2 separate regions of the Homo sapiens genome follow, and region 2 is linked to region 1. Evidence: fine-mapped expression QTL. A gene starts in region 1. The other region holds a variant in brackets. All regions are shown on one strand. Distances are from middle to middle.

Region 1 (5,372 bases):
GTCTAGGCACCACACACATCCTCCTCCCTTAATGATGTCATTCATGTTCAAAGCTTTAACTACTTCCAGTTGTGTACCAATGACTCCTAAATTCACATTTCTAGCTCAGACCTTTTTCAACCTCTGTACTTCACACTCATACCCACCTGCCTGCTGGCCTTCTCTTCTCTTCTCTTTTTGTGATGGAGTCTCGCTCTGTTGCCCAGACTGGAGTGCAGTGGCGCAATCTCGGTTCACTGCAACCTCCGCCTCCCGGGTTCAAGTGATTCTCCTGCCTCAGCCTCCCAAGTAGCTGGAATTACAGGCGTGTGCCACCATGCCCGGCTAAGTTTTATATTTTTAGTAGAGACGGGGTTTCACCATGTTGGTCAGGCTGGTCTTGAACTCCTGACCTCAGGTGATCTGCCCTGCTTGGCCTCCCAAAGTGCTGAGATTACAGGAGTGAGCCACCGTGCTTGGCCCCTGCTGGTCATTTCTAACTGAGTGTTTCCACAGACAGCAAAACTGAACTTTGGGAATTATCCTAGTCTTTTCCTTTTCCCTTAGACTCCATCTTCAAATAGGCACCAATAACTCTATTTCCTATCTTCTAAATATTCCCCAAATGCATTCTCTCCTCTCCCTTCCAATTTTATTCAAGTTCTCATCATCTTCAGCCTTTGTGTAATAACTTTGCCCCTCTACTTCCATCCACAGCATTTTAATCCATTCACCCATTCTTTCATGGATTTATGTAACTTATACTTTTACAATGAGCCTAATCTGATGCTTTTACTGACCCGCTGTGCTAAGCTCTAGATTGAGTTGAGTCTAGGAGAGAGACCGATTAACCAACAATGGCAATACAAATAAATTGATGTTGTTCTGGGGTGAGTCTAGGATACGGTGGGGAGGGGGATATACCTAATTTATCCTGCAAGGATGTAGTCCTCCTTCCTGACCCAATCAGGATCTTTCTAAAGTGCAAGCCCAACAACTGGCACTTTGTGGCTTAAAAACATTCCATGACTCAGTCTAAAGGATTAAGTCCAAATTTCTTGGCCCTGGCATTCAAGGCCTGTCATCATTTTCAACACAGCCTGAGGATTCCTGCCTTAACTTTCCGTGCTCCCTACTTTACCCCCATGTTCCAGAGACGCTAGATATATCACTCCTTAAATGCATCAGAGCCTTTTTGAAGGGGATGTTTGGGAAGGGAATTAGGGGCAGAGGTAGGATTACAGGGAGGAAGATGACCAGAGTCAGCTAGAGAGAAAAGGGGCCTAAGAGTGGAGAACCAGAAGATGGGAGGTGAGGAAGGGGAAAGAGAAGGGGAGGAGGAAATTGGGTGGAGGAGGAGAGTAAGGATGAAAAGTACAGAATGTGGGCCAGGCATGGTGGCTCATGCCAGTAATCCCAGAATTTGGGAGGCCAAGGCGGGTGGATCACTTGAGGTCAGGAGTTCGAGACCAGCCTGGCCAACATGGTGAAACCCAGTCTCTACTAAAAATACAAAAATTAGCTGGGCATGGTGGCAGGCGCCTGTAGTCCCAGCTACTGGGGAGGCTGAAGCAAGCAAATCACTTGAACCTGGGAGGCGGAGGTTGCAGTGAGCCCAGATCGCACCACTGCACTCCAGCCTGGGGGACAGAGCGAGACTCTGTCTCAAACAACAACAACAACAACAACAACAACAACAACAACAACAACTACTACTACTACTACTACTACTACTACTACTACTACTACTACTACAACAATGTGAAGGGACTGAGGGGTGGGAGAAAGACAGATGTCTTTGAGGGAAGAGGGCAAGGGCCGTTGGAGAAACCACCTACCCTCTGGGCTTTGGCTTGGTTGTTACAAGTCCTTAGGTCAAGACCTTGACTTAGGATGGCAGGGGGAGGTGTTGATCCTCAGGGAGGAAAGGCTCTTGGTTGTGGATGTGCCTCAGCTGCAGGTGCTGAGTGTTGAAATGCCTTGCCTGAAAGTCTGCTATCTGGGAAGGGGACTTGGATATCTGCAGAACTTCGCAAAGGAGCTCTGGCATGACCTGGGGAAGTGGGTAGGGACAAGGGGTCTAGGGCCAATGAGGGAGGGTCTTGACTGAAGCCTCCGGAACCCGGGCCAGGAGAGTAGGCGCCGGTCACCAGGGCAACCGGAACGCCTAGTAGTCTCCGTGGCAACGGCGGTCTGGTCACCTCCCCGGTGGGTAAGGTCTCCTGAGGGGCTTGCATTGGGCCTCGAGGGGGCGAGCCCAGAGGGTTTACTTCTGAAAAGTGGGGTGTGTGTTGCGGGATCTCTGTGAGCGAGTGTTTGGGTAGGATCTGCGGAGATCTGTGCGTACGTCCGGGGGAGTCTGGGATTGTGAGGATAGGGTTCCTTTGAGACATCTGTGGGGCGGTCGTTGGGGGCTGTGAGGATCTGAGGGGACCTCGGGCTCTGTGCTTGGGGTGAGAAAGGCAGGGTCTCGGGTAGCTGAGGCGGGGGCGGAGTCTGTGTGTCCTCGAAGCCCAGCAGGACTAAGTTGGGGACCAATAGAGTAGGGCGGGGGCGGGCTTTACTGACAGGGACCAATCGAGCCGGCCGGGGGGCGGGGCGTCACGCCGACGTCAAGTCGAGGCCGCCGCCGCGGGGCCTGGTTATCGCCGGTTCAGCGCAGCCCGGAGTCGCCCAGGCCTGAACTCCTACCCAGGTCCCCGGCCCCCGCCCCGGGCCCGCGAGGACACCGGAGGCCACCCCCCGGGGGTGGGGAGCGGAGCCGCGGGCCAGCTCTGCGAGCGCCCCGCGCTGGCCTGTCCGGCCCCGCCCCCGCCCCGGGCCATGGCCCAGCCCTTGTCCCGGCCCCTCGTCCTATCCCAATCCCCGCCTTGGCCCCCAGCCCCGCCCTCGCCCCGCTTCCCACATCGGCCCCAGCCCCTGCCTGGGTCCCCATCCAGGACCCCCTTCCAGTCTCTGCCCCTGGCCTGGCCCCCATCCCGGCCTCGGCCCTCGTTCCACCCCCTGTCACAAATCCCAGCCCAGGCCCTGTCCCAGCCCCATTCCCAGTGTTTGCTTAAGGCCCTGGCTCAACCCCGTCCCTTGCTGCAGTCCCCATCACAGCCCTTCCTTCCATCCCACTCCCTGCCCTTGTTCAAGCCCCAGTGTCCAGCCCAGCCCAACCCATTATCTCAGCCTTTGCCCTCATCTCTGTGTTTACCCAAGTCTCTCCCTCTAGTCCCCCCTATCTCTCATACTCTGCCCCTCTCCCAGCCTAGACTCAAGTCTGGGTTTCAGCTGCCGCCAGCCCTATTGCTGCTGTTGCTGTTCTCTGTCCTTGGCCCAGGGGCTGGTGAGTGCAGAAGCAGGGAAGATTGAGGCAGGAATGGGGTTCCGGCAGGGAGGGGTGGGCTGGAGAGATTCAGGAGAGGTGGGACCTGGGGAACTAGATCATTGGGGAGCAAGTGGGAGAAATAGAGAGTAGAGAGGTCTTACACAACAGGGATTGGCAGGGTCAAAAGAGTGGTAATTAATTGGGTTTGAGGCTCAGCAGGTGGCTTACAGTTTCTAGCACAGAGACTCCAAGATTTTTTCTGGTGTCTGTCCTGACCCCACTTTGACTCTTGCTTTTCCAGGGAAATGTTGTGGGCTTTGCTCCTGCTCACAAAGTTTGATGGGGGAGAGACAGTCCCACACCAGAAGCCCCTAGTGTAGTGTGGGAATATATAGCCCAAACCTTTGAGATATTGGGCATGCATTCAAACGGCATGAAGAAGAGTTTTAAAGATAATATGTAGCAAATAGATGAATATGGATTAGTTGCCATTATAATGAGTTTTCTTCTTGTAATGATTCTTGTTCCAAAGAAGATTGATTTGCCTAGGAATAATTCCTGATACTTTTAGAGCAGGGCTGAAACTCGGAGGCTATTTTACAGATGGGGAAACTGAGGCTCAGGGAGGGAGCAATTTGTCCAAAGTCAGAGAGCTTGTGAATGGCAGTGTGCTGGGGCTAGAAAAAAGGTTTCCTAATTCCTATTTCATACTAGTGTGTTTTTTTTTATCCACTGCAATGTATACTTAATAGAAAAATAGACCCAAGTGGGGAAAGGCTCAAAGCATAACCTCCCTTCTCCCCGGTCTGCCCACAAGGGTGCTTTATCCACAAACTGTTCCTTATTTGCCAGGCGTCAGCCAAGGGCCACCCTCCGGTGGGGAAGTGACTTGGACAGAAGAGAGAGAGGTCCAATTTTTTAATGGTTGGAATGTGGGAGGAGGAGGGGGTGTCCTGGTCTAGGGGATGTGCCATGAAGATGGCTCCATCATGGAGTGACTGTAGTCTTCATGGCCCAAGTCTGTAGCCACCTCTGGTGGGTGTCACTCTAGATAGGATGGAGATGTGCCTGATGGAGTCTTTGGAAATAACAGCCAACAGAACAGCTGGGGGGTGGAGAATGGGTATCAGTGAGCTCTGGGGGCCTGGTTCAGTGTACAAACTTAAGGAGACGAATGCACGTGAAAGGTCACAACCCCTGCAGAGATGTCTGGTCACTTATGTGTATGTGTGTAACTGAGGGATTGTGGGGAGGCTGGCAGCATGTGTACATGCTTGTGTGTTGTTAAGTGTAGACACGTGCATGTGTGTGGGGTGCATGTGAGCCAGTGTATCTTCTGAGCGCCTGTGTTATGGTATGAAGGGGAGGGGACATGTTGTGGCCCATGTACATTCCTCTTCAGCTCTGCCTCCTCCTCATATGGACAGATCACTGAAGCTGTGAATGGGGCTGGAGACCCTTTCTCAGCAGTTCCAAGGGTGAGGGCAGTGTTGCATGCCTCCCATAACGAATATAAGTTATCCATCCATCCCCAGCCAGTGCCTTTGAAGGAAGGAGCTGTGGAGGCACTCTGTGTTGATTACTGCTGCTGGCAAATTGGACACTGGGCAGAGGCAGTAGCCAGTCAGGTTTTCAGTTTTGGTAAGGGGAAGTTTATGCTGTTGGGCCAAGTTCCTAGCTTCCATCCTCTGCCATCATGGCTTCTTCATGTGCCCATTGAGCAAGCATTGGGCTGGTGAGGGGAGCAGGGTGACCGACAGCCACAGAGCATATACAGCTGAAAGTTGTGGATAAAAACACTGTTGCCCAGAAGCAGGTTCAGGTGCTTTGGGGAGAATTGTAATGAAGTTGGAAAAGAGTACCAATACACCCAAATGGAGGCAGGGCTGCCTTTAGTGCTGTTAATAATGAATGCCTTGGCAATTTTGGACCAAAGTACAGGGTGCTCTGTGACCTAATGGTGGTGATGGGTTTTGTCTGAGGAGAGGCTGGCAGTGTCATAGGACCATCATGGCACAGGGCTGCACAGTGCTTATTGGTTGCTTCGGTTTCATTTCAGGAATGGAAGTTATCTCTTGGG
Region 2 (5,372 bases), 53 kb before region 1:
AGCCCCAGGTTTCTTTTTAAAAATTATTTATTTATTTAATTTTTAAAATAAATAAAAGAGATGGGGTCTTGCTATGTTGCCCAGGCTGGTCTTGAACTCCTGAGCTCAAGCAATCCTCCTGCCTTGGACTCCCAGTGTTGGGGTTGCAGGTGTGAGCCACCACACCTGGCCCGTATTATTATTTCTGAAGATCTTTTTATATGTGAAAAAACAATCCATTGTTATTTCAGTTTTATAGCCACTTTAAAAAATGTGTATTGGTGCACAAACTTTATTCTCTGATGATAAATTTCATTAAAACAGTCAAAAATTATTATAAGTTGGTTGAATGAAGTGAATGGTTAATCTGGGTTATTCCGGTTTTCGTTGAATGTACATGGGACTCTGAAGGGGTCATACCCCAGTTCTACCACTGCTGGGTCCTCAGGAGACTCAGCCTCAGCACCTTGCTCCCCCATGGCAGCAAACGCCTCCCTCCCTGAGAGACTGACTGTGCTCAGCTCTGGTCAGGGCAGGCTGCACAGGCCTTTTGCTGGATGACCCGGTAGGCAGACTAAGTGTGTGCCTTTAGGGTCCCAGCAAAGCAGTGGTACTAAATAGATTTGGAGGAAAGGATGTTGCTGTGTTTTTAAAAACATGGAAGTACTTGGCCGGGCGCGGTGGCTCACGCCTGTAATCCCAGCACTTTGGGAGGCTGAGGCGGGTGGATCACGAGGTCAGGAGATAGAGACCATCCTGGCTAACACGGTGAAACCCCGTCTCTACTAAAAATACAAAATAGCCGGGCGTGTTGGCGGGCGCCTGTAGTCCCAGCTACTGGGGAGGCTGAGGCAGGAGAGTGGCGTGAACCCGGGAGGCGGAGCTTGCAGTGAGCCGAGATTGTGCCGCTGCATTCCATCCTGGGCGACAGAGCAAGACTCTGTCTCAAAAACAAAACAAAAAAAAACATGGAAATAGTTACTATGGGGAAATTTGAATTTATTGATTTTATTTTTATTTCTTTTTTGGAGGAGGGGAGTACTATAATCTTTTCAGTGTTTTTGGTTTTTATACAGGTCAATTCCCCTCTTTGACTCATCCCAAATTTTGGTGGGGGGGGCTTCAGTCACATCCTTGTCTTTTTCAGCAGCCTCCTCCCCATATTGTCTCGAGGATTGGGAAGCAGGAAATTTATAATACCCTTTTCTCTCTGTTTTCTCCAAATTCATTTTCTCTCCTGTGTTCCTTTGGGAGAAAAGGGAAATCAGTTCTGTCTCTTCACTCCTCTATATTACTCCATCTGGATGGACCCACACTGATAGCAGTGAACCTTGAACTTGGCAGTTTTGGAGCCAGGGTCTTTGCCCTCAGTGCAGTAAATTCATTTTTTTTTGTTTAGCTGCCAGATTTAGGGTCCAAACAGGAAAACAGAACTCACTCTAAGCATTTAAACCAGAGGGCATTTAATCCAGAGAATTAGCTGGCTGTGAATATGGTGGAAGAGCTGAGAAGCCTTTCAAGGGAAGGTGAGGCAATGCAGGGGAAGATTAGCAACCGAACCTTCTATTCTCCCTAGGCTGTGGGAAGGAGGGGAAGTGCAAGGGGCAGGGTAACTTAGAAGCCGGAACTTTGGGGGCCTGTTCTAGGGAAGCTGGGGCCAAAGAGTGCCTGTCCAGATGCTGGCCAAGGCTGGGAGAGAAGGGGAAGAGATAGTCTGGCTTCTCTCGTTCAGTTTTCTGCCAGTGCCTCCCTGACTGAGCTCAGCAGGAAGCCATCTGTGGAGGGAATGGGAAGGAGCGCCACCATTTACTACACACGCTTCCACATAAGCTTGCGTTTGTCTCTTCCTAGTTAGTACACTTCTTAAGGATATTGAACTAAGTTGAACAGTTTCTCTTTTTTGGTCATATACTACTGATCAGCTCTTCTTATTAGACTTTTCAATGAAGAGATGAAAAATTTGAAAACCTTTACACAGTGTAAAAACAAGCAAACTCTTTTAAAAAAATTTTTGCTTTACTCTTCCAGAATATGGTCCCAAACTGCTGATGGTGGGATGTAGTTCAATTTTGGATATGACGGACCCCTAATAATTACCATAATAATGGACATTTATATAATGCTTTACAATATACAAGGTGCTTTTACATTTATTGTTACTGCAAATAGGTCTTAATCTGGGGATTTTGGAGCCTGTTTATTTGACCTCTAACAGGTTAGCTTAAGGCCTAGATTTGAAAGAAAAAAACAGTAATGCTCTTTTCTTGTTTTCCTCTGAATCACAGATGATAGGCAAACTTCTTTGACCTTTTTGTTAGACAGTTTAGCTACCCTCAGTAGTGGGAGGTGTTCTTAGCTGTCACTGGTGGGAGAGGCTGGCATCAAATTACTCCTCTGTTTTTCTCTCTTGGTGACCCAGCAGGTGTTTAGGACAATGACGACTACTCATGTGGAACCTTTGCAGTCATATAGATCATGCCTGTTGTTTTTGGCCTATTCTCCTTCTCCTTCTTCTTCTTTTTTTTTTTTAGATGGAGTCTTGCTGTGTCATCCAGGCTGGGGCGCAGTGGTATGATCTCGGTTCACTGCAACCTTCACCTCCTGGGTTCAATCAATTCTCCTGCCCTCAGCCTCCCGAGTAGCTG[G/A]AATTACGGGCGTCTGCACCATGCCTGGCTAATTTTTGTATTTTCAGTAGAGACAGGGTTTCATTATGTTGGCTAGGCTGGTCTTGAACTCCTAACCTCAGGTGATCTACCTCCCTCGGCCTCCCAAATTGTTGGGATTACAGGCATGAGCAACCGCATCTGGCCCCCTATTCTCATCTAAATAAATATTTTATTTCTTTATTTTCAAAGTGTCATCCTTGGCCCTCAAGGAAGAGTCTAAGTCAGCCCTACAGTTCATCTTGTCTAGTGTTTGATCAAGATTTGCTTTGTGGGCCAGGCGCGGTGGTTCACGCCTGTAATCCCAGCACTTTGGGAGGCCAAGGTGAGCAGATCATGAGGTCAGGAGATCGAGACCATCCTGGCTAACACGGTGAAACCTCGTCTCCACTAAAAATACAAAAAATTAGCCGGACGTGGTGGCGGGCGACTGTAGTCCCAGCTACTCAGGAGGCTGAGGCAGGAGAATCGCTTGAACCTGGGAGGTGGAGCGTCCAGTGAGCCGAGCTGGCACTACTGCACTCCAGCCTGGGTGACAGAGTGAGACTCTGTCTCAAAAAAAAAAAAAAAATTTGCTTTGTGGAAAATCAAAATAATTGAATTTATTCTTGGGCCAGATATACCCCAACCAATCTTAGCTTTGTTTTTATGACATTATACATGAAGTTATCTAAATCAGGTGTTTTTCTTTTTTTTTTTTTTTTTTTTGAGACAGAGTCTTGCTCTGTCACCCAGGCTGGAGTGCGGTGGCATGATCTTGGCTCACTGCAAGCTCCGCCTCCCAGGTTCACACCTTTCTCCTGCCTCAGCCTCCCCAGTAGCTGGGACTACAGGTGCCCACCACCATGCCTGGCTAATTTTTTGTATTTTTAGTAGAGATGGGGTTTCACTATGTTAGCCAGGATGGTCTCGATCTCCTGACCTCGTGATCCACCCTCCTCAGCCTCCCAAAGTGCTGGGATTACAGGCGTGAGCCACTGTGCCAGGCCTAAATCATGTTTTGTGGTTTTTTTTTTTTTTGTACTTGTTTCTTTCATTTATTTATTTTTATATATATAGAGAGAGAGATAGGGTCTTGCTATGTTGACCAGGCTGGTTTCAAACTTTGGCCTCAAATGATCCTTCCATCTTGGCCTCCCAAAGTGCTAGGATTACAGGTGTGAGCCAACGCGCCCAGCCTGGTACTTGTTTCTTGTAAGATGTTCTAGTTCTAACTCTTCTTCTTCAGACCTACTGATCTTGGATTATACTTTTTGTAATACTTTATCTTTTGGTTCCAAATGACTGGTTTTCAGAAAAGCCTTCTTAGCTCTGATGTTACCGTTCTGCCCTTTGATGTTTTTAATCTCCTTGCTACAGCTATGAGGGATTCACCATGTGTGTTTATCTATTAAAAGAAATCCCATCTTTCCCTTTGAGGTCCCATTGCCATCCTTTAAAACATTCAAGATATCAAGCACCCCATATCAATGACATATTTTTATGCTTTCTTGTTTATGATTAAGATTCATTTTTAATTAAAAATTTTGAATAGGTCATACTTGCACACCTGTTACAAAATTAAAGCTATACAAAATGGGCCAGGCGCGGTGGCTCATGCCTGTAATCCCAGCGCTTTGGGAAGCCGAGGTGGGCAGATCACCTGAGGTCGGGAGTTTGAGACCAGCCTGATCAACATGGAGAAACCCCGTCTCTACTAAAAATACAAAAAAATTGGCCGGGCGTGGTGGCGCATGCCTGTAATCCCAGCTACTCGGGAGGCTGAGGCAGGAGAATCACTTGAACCCGGGAGACAGAGGTTGCAGTGAGCCAAGATCATGCCATTGTTCTACAGCCTGGGCAACAAGAGCGAAATTCTGTGTCAAAAAAAGGTATACAAAATGATAGATAATGAAAAAACTGTCTCTTTCATCTTGCCCTTTAGATACCTTGTTCCCCTTCAGGGAGGTATTCGCTGTTAACAGTTTCCAGTCCAAAAGCTACGTTTTAAAGCATAATTAAATTTCTGGCCCCTTCTCTAAAGTCCCTCAATTATTAATCATATTAACTCTGTAGAAGGATGTATCACAACATTATACTGAAAAATAAGCTGAATATACAAAAGTGTTCAAGCAGTCAGAATACTTTGGAATATAATATGACATGTCAAACTGGTGTCTGACATGGATGGCTTCTGGGTGGATGCAAGTCCCTAAATGTCCAGCCTTCCTTTTGTGCATTGGCTTTGCCTGCCTACATACCCACTCCCTCCTCTCGAATGCACAAATAATGCACATTCGCCTTCCTGTTTGCTTTCTCTTAAGCCCAAGGCTTGTTAATCTGGGATCCTTTAGCTCCTAGATCCACGTGCACCTGAAATGATATGTAAAATGTTGTGGAATAATATGTATATGTGCTTTTTATATTTTAATGGGGAAAAGAGAGTATACATGGCTTTCATCTGATGTTCTATCTCCAGTCTATCTCTGTCTTCTTTATTCTGCCTGAACTTTCAAACTCCTGGTTCCTTCTGTCACTCAAAAGATGACTTTGCTTCCCCATTGAGGAATGCAGTTGAGCTCCTTATTTCATATAACCTTCCCTTCATTTCAATATATTATAGAGGATGTTGAGTAAGGTTTTTTTCTATTGCCCTGGAATTGGTGACTAGGGTCCAAAGCTGGGACAAAGAGGACTAAATACTGCACGTTCTAGAGAGAGTTGCTAATAATTGGATCAGAGCTCCTCTCC

Evidence for each region. PIP is the estimated chance that this variant, and not a neighbour inherited with it, causes the effect.
Region 2: its variant is fine-mapped to the expression of TMEM8B in whole blood (INTERVAL, PIP above 0.99).

What each region holds. Positions count from the first base shown.
Region 1 is chr9:35,826,646-35,832,017 of GRCh38, forward strand. TMEM8B (transmembrane protein 8B) reads left to right here and starts at 2,583. Exons shown (of 13, transcript NM_001042590.4): 1 at 2,583-3,310. The coding sequence starts at 2,803. FAM221B (family with sequence similarity 221 member B) reads right to left here and starts at 2,087. Exons shown (of 7, transcript NM_001012446.4): 1 at 1,818-2,087. RefSeq lists a silencer at 2,440-2,889 and an enhancer at 3,175-3,675.
Region 2 is chr9:35,773,798-35,779,169 of GRCh38, forward strand. It overlaps a transcript of RGP1 not described here. Among named protein-coding and RNA genes, the nearest start is that of NPR2, 15 kb to the right of the region's middle. The variant G/A (reference allele first, on the strand shown) is at 2,625.